Linked DNA regions of Homo sapiens: region 1 is linked to region 2. Evidence: fine-mapped expression QTL. Tissue or cell type: blood mononuclear cells. Region 2 holds a variant in brackets; the other region holds the start of a gene. All regions are shown on one strand. Distances are between the middles of the regions.

Region 1 (5,228 bases), 37 kb after region 2:
CTAGGGAGGCTAAGGTGGGAGGATCACTTGAGCCCAGGAAGTTGAGCTTGCCACTGCACTCCAGCCTGGGTGACAGAGCAAGATTCTGTCTCAAAAAAAAAAAAGGGTAAGCAAATAACTTATTCTGCAGGATGGGAGAGAGGAGCGGAAGGGCACAGCATGGAATAAATTAAAAAAAAAAAAAACTAAGAAAAGAAATATTTGAAAGATGAAGGTCCCCATTTTATCCTCACTATAGCTCCAGGCAGGGGGTCTCTACTTCAACTTCTGAAATAGCTCCCACACCTATATACAACCATCAGTTACCACAATAACCTGCCTTGCTTTTGTGGCTCCAGAATATTCCAGCAGCCTTGTATCTGGTGAGCTTTTTTTTTTTTTTTTTGAGATGAAGTCTCACTATGTCACCCAGGCTGGAGTGCAGTGGCGTGATCTCAGCTCACAACCTCCACCTCCCAGGTTCAAGCAATTCTCCTGCCTCAGCCTCCAGAGTAGCTGGGATTACAGGTGCTTACCACCACGCCCGGCTAATTTTTGTATTTTTAGTAGAGACGGGGCTTCGCCATGTTGGCCAGGCTGGTCTCAAACTCCTGACCTCAGATGATCCACCCGCCTCGACCTCCCAAAGCACTGGGATTACAGGAATGAGCCACTGTGCCCAGCCTCTGGTGGGCTTTTCTAGGCTCCTCCCATTCTAAGTCATTCAGCACTGGAAACAAATTAAGTTGCCTAAATTGCCTCATTTATCATGCTAAAGAACTTCTGTGGCTCCCTATTATTCTCAGAACACTGATTATCAGGATGGGTGTTTAGGAACATATCATCTAACCTCTCTGAGCCTCAGTTTCCTCATCCATATTAAGAAATGAGTCTTGAAGCATAACTCAAAAGCTTGAGGATTAAAGATAACATATGCCTTGTACCGTACTTTTTCTAAAGGTTATGTGCTCACTAAAAGTTAGTCCTCTTTCTGCCTGTCTCTACACACCCAGCTCGGTAAGGTATCTTAGCTTAAGAAGGAAAGAGCAAGTATTTCTAGGATTTTTTTTTTTTTTTGAGACAGGGTCTCACTCTGTCAATCTCCGCCTCCCAGGCTCAGGTAATCCTCCCACCTCAGCCTCCCCACAGGCACACACCACCACCATGCCCGGCTAAATTTTTGGAGACACAGGATTTTGCCGTGTTGCCTGGGCTGGTCTCGAATTCCTGGATTCAAGCGATCTGCCTGCCTCGGCCTCCCAAAGTGCTGGGATTACAGGGTCTTAAGTCAGGTCTTAAGAACACAAGGGGGAAAAAGGCTGCTCATCTATGGTTGTGTGATGGCCAGGAAAACATTTCTCACTCACAACTGCTCCTTTCGTCCACAGTCCTCCATACACACAGACCCCCTAGCCTTTATTTTATTCTATCCTTTTCGTCATTTGAGGAAGTGATATTCAAATTAAATTTAAATAAAGTTACACTGTGAAAAGTCTCACTCCCATTTTCTCCCCCTTTAGCCCAATTCCCACCTCACTCCCACCAACCACTTTATCAGTTTCTTGAGTATCCTTCAAACTTTTTATGAAAAAGCTGTCTTTAAATAAAGCTAATGTTTTACAGGTGTTAGCAAGGTTCGGGGTGGGGGAGGGTGGAAGAAGTAGTGGACTAGGTCCTATTCAACCTGGTTTACCCTAAAGCAGTGTCCTTCGCTCACTCAAAAATAACAATAATCATATGTTGGGCACCTGTTATAAGTCAGATGCTTAATATTAACTACCTTCAGCCCTTAGTATGCACCAGAAATGCACTAATGCTTTACACAATTGCCCCCTTTGATCTCCACAACAATCTTAAAAGGTAGGTTACTAATTCTCATCTTCATCTTACAAGTGAGGAAACTGAGGCACAGAAAGGTCACCTGCCCAAGCAAGAGAGAGGAGCAGGGCTTTGAACCCAGGCCTGACTCCAGAGTCCCTCTTAACCGTGACGCTCTACACTAGCAAACCAGATATAGTCTCTGCACCCGCTGGAACTCAGCCTAATGTGGGAGACGGGCGAGAAAAAGGCAGACAACAAAGAAATACGAAATTATAGACTAAGAAAGTAATGTAAACGAAACGAATTCGCGGCTGTGACAGAATAACAATGGGGACCTACTTTAGAAAGGGGAAGGAAAGAGTGTCAAGGAAAGGCCTGAGAAAATGACATTTATGAAATGCTCGGGAACCATTTGGGGGCTGCAATGATGACCCCCTCCCCCACGCCCAATACACGGGATAAACTCGAGGCCCACAGAGGCTAAAACAAACACGACAGGGTCCCCCAGACGTGTAGACGTGGCGCAAAGAAGGGAGGATCCAGAAACTGGGCCCAGGGTTCGTACACGCCATCAGTGTCCACAGCAGCCCAGCCCCGCTCGGCCCCTGACAAGGGACATCAAGCCAGCTGCTTCCCACGGCCCCGCTGCAGCTGAGAGCGTCCGGGCAGCTCACAGGGAGGCCTTCCGGCCAGCCAAAAGGGCTTTGGCCCGTCCAGCGGCGGCCTGGAAAGGCCTCTTCCCCGGCCCCCCGCCAGCTCCCGCCTGGTCCGCCCCGCCCCGCCCCTCCTGGTCCAGCCTCGTACCTGCACCGCCCGGACCAGGCCCCGGCCGGTCAGCTGGCCCTGCCGCAGCTGCAGCAGAATGTTACCAGGCCGCGGCCGGCCGCCCCATCCGCCCCAAGCCGCCACTGTGGCTGCCGACCGTCTCCCTCGGCCGGCTCCAGACCCAGCCGCTACCGGCGCCGCCGCCATGTCTCCTCGTCGGACAAACAGGAAGCAAGCGGCCTCGGGGCCGCGGAGATTTCTACGGGGCGGCGGAGGGGTCGCCGCAGCGCCCCCAGTGGGCCGTCGGCGGAGGCGCAAGCCGCGTGGCAGGGACCGTGTGCGGCGTGGAGGCTACTGGGAATTGTAGTCCTGCGCGGCAGCGGGGTAGGTGGGAAAAGAGATGTGGCCTTTCCTGCACTGCCGGTTTCTCTGGCCCCCGGGCCCAGCATTTCGGCGAAATCTCCCAAGGTCCACATTCTCCCATTTCTCTCGCCGATTTGGGCAGGATGCAGGCAGCTGGCCAAGAAATGATCCTGGGCTTCAGGTCAGGAGTCAGGCCCTCGAGTCCGCTTCCTGCCTGCTTCTCTCTACACGTGACTCACCGCGGACATCGACCAAGTCATCGCGCTCTGCCACTGCGCCTGTGTCCTCGTCAGGTCACTCCATCTATAGATTCTGGGAGCCTGATCAATCGTAGTTCCTGGGGCTTTCTCTGCGCCCGACACCAAACCATGTCTAGGGGAAAGGGAGGGTGTCTGGGATACAGTGGTGAGCAGAACGGCCTGGGATCCTTTATCACGAAATGCAGGTTACAGGGGAAGACAGCAGATCCATACACAAAGAAACGCAGTCTCAAACTGGATAAGTTGTGTAACTGGGTAGGTTGTTGTGAAATTAAATAATGGAAGGGAAAGGGATTAGTAAATTGTGACATCATATTCTCTGTCAGATGAAAACCCTGTCCTAATTTCTATCCACCAGATAGCATGTTGTCTCTAATACTCATTTTTTCAGCTAACTTCTGTGGCAGGATGGCACTGACTCCCCCCACCCAACACACACACACTTTTTCCCTTCCTAGCAGGGGGCCTGTAATAAAAATGAAAGAGGAGAGCTAAGTGTGATGTAACAGGGAATGGTGAAGATTGTGACTCATAACTAAGATGACTGTAACTTACTGCTCAAACCAGAACACTTTAAAGAATGAAAAGACACAATAAATAATTACACCGGGACGGTAGGCATAAAAGTGACTCTCCCAGGTGAACTGGCACTATGGTTACCATCCTCACACCCCATCTAAAAGGAGTAGACTCACCATCCATCTTCATAGAACTAGAAAAAAGAATCCTAAAAATCATATGGAACCAAAAAAGAGCCTGCATGTCCAAAGCAAGACTAAGCAAAAAGAATAAATCTGGAGGCATCACATTACCTGACTTCAATCTATACAATAAGGCCATAGTCACCCAAACAGCATGGTACTGGTATAAAAATAGGCACATAGACCAATGGAACAGAATAGAGAACACAGTATAAAACCAAATACTTATAGCCAACTGATCTTCGATAAAGCAAACAAAAACATAAAGTGGGGAAAGGACACCCTATTCAACAGCTGGTGATAACTGGCAAGCCACATGCAGAAGAATGAAACTGGATCCTCATCTCTCACATTATACAAAAATAAACTCAGCCGGGTGCAGTGGCTCACACCTGTAATCCCAGTGGCTCACACCTGTAATCCCAGCACTTTGGGAGGCCGAGGTAGTCAGATCATGAGGTCAGGAGTTCGAGACCAGCCTGGCCAACATGGTGAAACCCCATCTCTACTAAAAATGCAAAAATTAGCTGGGCGTGGTGGCATGCACCTGTAGTCCCAGCTACTTGGGAGGCTGAGGCAGGAGAATCACTTGAACCCTGGAGACAGAGGTCACAGTGAGCCGAGATCACGCCACTGCACTCCAGTTTGATGACAGGATGAGACTCCATCTCAGAAAAAAAAAAAAAAATAGCCAAAGAAGTTACAGTCAGGAGATATTTTGTTCCCTATAGAAACTGAATATAACATCTTAAAATTTGTCCCTGAGTGTTGTTTCTTAGAAACTCGAACCCCCACCAAATGGATCTGCTGATAGGCAAACTCAGATAAGGGAGAGCTGAGAACTAAACTTTGACTTCTATTTTTTGTTATAAATTTCTTCCTAGGGGGCCTGGAGGAGGACACGACCATAAGTCAGAGCTAACATTCTTTTCTGCAGATCCCAAATTTTTAGACAAAGCTTTACCTCCTTAACCAATTACAAGTCAGAAAATCTTTGAATCCACTTGTGGGCCCCTGGTTGGAGATGTCCTGTCTTTTTAGGTGGAACCAATATACAGCCCCTATGTATTGATTTATGACTTCGCCTGTGGCCTCTGCCCTCCTGCCATTAAAAACCTGTAAGCCGGCTGGGCGCGGTGGCTCACACCTATAATCCCAGCACTTTGGGTGGCCGAGGCAGGTGGATCACCTGAGGTCAGGAGTTCGAGACCAGCCTGACCAAAACGGCAAAACCCCGTCTCTACTAAAGATACAAAAATTAGCCAGGCATGGTGGCACGTGCCTGTAATCCCAGCTACTCGGGAAGCTGAGGCAGGAGAATCGCTTGAACCCAGGAGGC
Region 2 (5,228 bases):
GAATGTCACTGATTAACATTAGGTATCATGATTTTAAAACGGCCTCATAAAACTAGTGACTATATGGAGTTGCCAAAGATGGAGTCATTATATTATACACTGTCTTCTTCTATAAGGACAATTTCTTATTGGCCTTAGTTGCAAGAACTGTGCATTTCCTGAACAATTTGAAATTTTATCTTATAGATCTCCCTGTGCCTATCTCTGTCATTGGCTATACATGGCTACCGAGCACTTAAAAGGTGGCCAGGCCAAACTAAGATGTGCTCTGGGTGTTCAAACAAGAGGAAAGAAAAACAAAACACACACACACATTGGATTTTGAGAGCTCAATACGAAAAACAAGTAAATATCTCATTAATAATTAATTATACTGATTACATGTTAGAATGACAATATTCTTGATACACTGTGTTAAACAGAATTTATCATTAAAATTAACTTCACCACTTCTTCCTACTTTTTTCTTTAAAAAAATGTGGCTACAAGGAAATTTAAAATAACCCAAGTGGCTTGCATTATATTTCAATTGCACAGCACTATTATAGATGCTGAATTACGTAAGTGTTCAAACATATTCCCCTATTTGTGTTGGCTGCTAAGAAGCTTGAAGCCAAATTTGTGCCCATCCGTAATACAGATGATTTTATGGTCTTCATTTTTATATCAGCCCAATTCCTGGCTATACGTTATGTCCCCACCTTTATCTTCTTCTTTCTTACCTGCTTCTAAGTTCGTGATCTTGGTAGATTTTGCATACACCCACAAGATGTCAGAAATCTTATTTTGAATGAGGCAAGAAATGAAATGGAGCTAAATGTTTTTTTTTTTTTATTTCCACAGCATACAGGGTTCACATTTATAATAGCGCTCGTCTCATTCTGCCATGTATTATGATTCACAGTTTACACAGTTTATCATAAGTTTCTAAAAGACAGGTACTGTATCTTTTAAAAACTAACATTTATATATTGTTTTACAAAGTGTTTTCACATCTACTATCTCATTTCTCACAATAAATCTATGATGTTAATACAACTGCTAACTGCATTCTATTGGTAAGAAACTACGGCTTGGGAGGTGTACTAAGCCAAGGGCCAGAACACAAAATCAGGTCCTAACACTAAGTGCCATCCTCTTTTGTTTCTACCAGATTGCTTTCTTTATTCACCATTCTTCCTGGCTCAGTGGTCAACCTAGTAGAGTCCTGCTCAATATATGGGCGGGGCTTCTGGTTCTCATTTTGTTTTCTAACAAGGAAAATGAAGAAATAGGCATAATGGAGTTAAAATGAGTCTTAAAGGTCACAGTCTGCCAACACTTGTCACCTTTTGACAAGTGTCCAGTTTCTACTTGGACAGCTCTAAGGCCAAAGGAGTTTACTACCTGCTGCAGCAGTCCTGGCTCTTAACAACTGCTACAAAATTCTGCCTCCCCGTAATTTCTACCAGTTAGTCCTGATTTTCAGGCACACATAAAATAAGCCCGATTCCCCCACTGTCTGAAAGCAGCTCTTATGTCTGCCATTCTACTCGAATATTCCCATCTTAAACATTGCAGACCTGGTAGGGGAGATAAACAGAGCCCCAGTGGCAGGGGTACTTACACAGACACAGGTATTATACAGGATACTCAAGCAGTCCTTGGACATTTCATCACTTACTGAAAGTGAAAGGGTAATGACTGGTTATTTTTCTCAATGAAAAGATAGTACAACAGTTACCACATTTTTTTCAGCATAAGAACTGTTATAATCCCCTCCAAGATGATTATTTTTCCTTTAATATACTTCTTCCAGCCCCTGTCTACCAAAGGTTTTCATAGTGCCCATCAGAACCTACAAGCCCATTTGCATATTGCTTTTGGTTTGATACAGCAGCTGTTTTCTTATTATGCTCCACAGTCTTCATAATTTCAACCTGTTGTTGTGCCATCATTTAATAAAGCCATTTTCCCTTAATGTCTTGCTTAGGATATATCTAGGATTTGTTTTTTTTGTTTTTTGTGTTTTTTGGCTATTTAAGTAGACCACAAATGAACAACTTAATATATATGTGTATCCTTTTCATGTTTGTATTAAACTAGTTCCTCAAGATACATTTTCAAAAGTAGAACTACTAGAATCTAAAGTATAGGCATCTTTTTTTTGTTCATTTGTTTTGGTTTTTTAAATGAGGTCTTACTCTGTCACTCAGGGGCACAATCACAGCTCACTGTAGTCTCGAACTCCTAGGCTCAAGCAATTTTCCCTCCTCACCCTCCCGAGTGGCTAGGACTGCATGCGCGTGTACCACGCCTGGCTAAAAGTTAAAAGTATAAGCATCTCAATTGCTCTTGTTATAAATTTCCATTGAAAGTTCTACTGCAGCAAACAAAAATACCATTTTTATCAGACTCATTAACTGAGCATTTCTTTTTTTGTTGCTGTTATCTGTGTTGGGCAAATGGCTCTTAATGTCTGATCTAT[T/G]ACTAATTCTTATAAAGAAACTACTACTTCCCTGTGAGCAGGAACAGGAAAGTAGCATAAAAACGAAACTTAATTTTCATGAGCCCAAAACCAAAAGATGATGAAACTGAGTATGAACCATGGACAAAGTGCTTTATTTGGCACTTGCTTCTATTTTTTAAAATTGTTTCCATTCACTCCTAAGCTGCTAGGAATGCTAAAATGCTAGGTCTCCTTCTCAGATCCCAATGGGCAGCCCTGCCAAGCTAGCTTGACTAGATGGGTTGTCTCATAATCCTGAGACAACGCAGACGCTCTGCATCCCTTATCACCACCTTTCAACCTACTGGGGCTCTGTGATTGATTTATTTAACGACTTCAGAGCAGGGTGAAACACTGCTCTGCATGTCTCACTATATATCTCACTATTTCTAGATCCTCCATTTTTAAAAGGAATTGGGATTCACTCATTCATCAAGTATTGTTCAGCATCTACTCTAGAGCAGATACAGTGGTGAGGGAAAAAAAGTCTCAGCCTTCATGGAACCTATAAATCTAGTGGGAAGAAGAGAGACTAAACAAGTGCACCAACAAATAATTACAATATGCTACTTGCTATGAGGGTACATAGAGAACATGAAAGACCAAGTTAGAATACACAGCTGAGACATTAAAAATGAATATAAATCCTCTTAATAACCACTACTGCATGCACAAATGAGGCCTTATACAGTATGTCGTATTGGGGTAAAAAAAAAATCTTTTAAATTAAAAAAACGCAAAGTTGGTAGGAGGGCATTCACCAAACATTAACTGAAGTCATCTCTGGCTTTTAACACCAGAGTAAAGTGCATTCACTTTTTTATTTTAAATTAAATACCGAAGCTGGGTGCGGTGGCTCATGCCTGTAATCCCAGCACTTGGGAGGCTGAGGTGGGCAGATCACTTGAGGTCAGGAGTTCGAGACCAGCCTGGTCAACATGGTGAAACCCCATCTCTACTAAAAAAAAAAATACAAAAATTAGCCGGGTATGGTGGTGGGCGCCTGTAATCCCAGCTACTTGAGAGGGTGAGGCAGGAAAATCACTTGAGCTCAGGAGGCGGAGGTTGCAGTGAGCCAAGATCATGCCACTGCACTCCAGCCTGGGCAACAGAGCGAGAGACTGTCTCAAAAAAAAAAAAATTGAATACCTAAAAAGAATTATTTGTAACGTGTAAGTTATAAAAAATAATAATAGAATATTACCCATATATCTACCACCCAGCTTAAGAAATAGTGCATACCAAAACACTCTGACTTTTTACCATTCACACCCTGGTAATGCCTGAACTTTTTACAAAGAGCATGTATCACCTTTCTAAAAAAAATAGTTTAAAAAAAATAAAACAGAGTGATCTTACTCTCTCAGCTAGTTATATGTGAGAAAGAAGAATTTCCCAAGGAAACATAGAAGCTGGATCACAGGACTATCAAAAGTACAAAGATGCATTCTCTTAACCCAGATCTGAATTTCTACGCAGTACAGAATGAATAAAGACAGCTGCTTAGCTGGGGGAGGAGAGAGCAACCTGTAGCTAAATGTAAGACATGTCCTTACTATTAAGAGTTAGGAAGGGAAGGAAGAAGGCAGCTGCTGGGAACTGCCACCGTATCGGCAGGTTGGAAAACAAGGACCAGTAGCTAATAGGTATACTTACTTTTCAGTTTCTGTCCCCGGATAGAGATCGTAGGCCTCATAAGAATTTCTACAAGAAGCTATAAAAAAAATTAGATAAAATCTTCAAAATTAATTCAAAGTATAACTTATAAAATGATTTTGCCATAACCATTCATGGCCCATGTATCTGTCACAGTATTACAAGACCCTTTTGTTCCAGGAGGCAGTTAAGGTTCAGTAAGGCTCCTGACTGCAGCAAGTCAGGAGACCCAGGTTCTAGTCCCAGCTTGGCCACCTACTTGCCCTTCTCTGGCCTCAGCTTTCTCATTTTTGAAAAGAAGTATTTTAGATTAGGTAATCTCTGGGATCTAATGCGGCTTTAATTTCTGAAAAGCTGCAGAACATTATTACTATGATTCTTCTGTTTAAAGAACATTTGTAAGTTTATTTTAAAAGGACTCAAAAGATACACCATAAATTGTTAACACTGATTTCTACAGGTTTGGGGGTTATATGCATGTGTTTTTTATTTTACATACTTTAATACAATTTTGCACAAACTGTTTAAAATAAGCATGTATTTAAAAATTCATTCTACGGAGAGAAAGGATAGTTGATAAAAGGGTCAATCCATTAGAAAGATATAACAACTACAAATATGTATGTACCTAACAATAGAGCCCAAAAATACATGAAACAAAAGCTGGCAGAAATGAAGGAAACAGATAATTTAAAAATAAAAGTTGGACACGTTAATAACTCTGCTTTCAATAATAGACAACTAGGCAGACGAGCAAAGAAATAGAAGACTTGAACACAACGAACACATATATTCTAACAGACATCTACAGAACACTCCATGCAGCAAGAACAGAGTATACATTCTACTCAAGTGCACATGAAACATTCTCCAGGACAGATCAAATTTCAGGCCACTGAACAAGCCTCAATAAATTTAAAAGCACTTAAATCACATACAGTATGTTGTGTGGCCACAATGGAATGAAATTAAAATCAGAACGAAATTTGGGAAATTCATGAATTATATGGATAATTTTAAAAACCCATCCTAAATAATAATGGGCCAAAGAAGAAACCACAAGGGGAAGTATAAAGTATCCAAG

What was found. PIP is the estimated chance that this variant, and not a neighbour inherited with it, causes the effect.
Region 1: it holds the start of TRPC4AP, and the variant in region 2 is fine-mapped to the expression of TRPC4AP in blood mononuclear cells (TOPMed, PIP above 0.99). The same link has a PIP of 0.9 or more in monocytes after LPS and monocytes after R848.

What each region holds. Positions count from the first base shown.
Region 1 is chr20:35,090,010-35,095,237 of GRCh38, forward strand. It overlaps TRPC4AP (transient receptor potential cation channel subfamily C member 4 associated protein), which reads right to left and starts at 2,798. Exons shown (of 19, transcript NM_015638.3): 1 at 2,605-2,798. The coding sequence starts at 2,772. RefSeq lists an enhancer at 484-1,043 and a silencer at 2,570-2,699.
Region 2 is chr20:35,053,370-35,058,597 of GRCh38, forward strand. It overlaps TRPC4AP (transient receptor potential cation channel subfamily C member 4 associated protein), which reads right to left. Exons shown (of 19, transcript NM_015638.3): 4 at 4,145-4,202; 5 at 1,607-1,662. Among named protein-coding and RNA genes, the nearest start is that of TRPC4AP, 37 kb to the right of the region's middle. RefSeq lists an enhancer at 2,519-2,628. The variant T/G (reference allele first, on the strand shown) is at 2,468.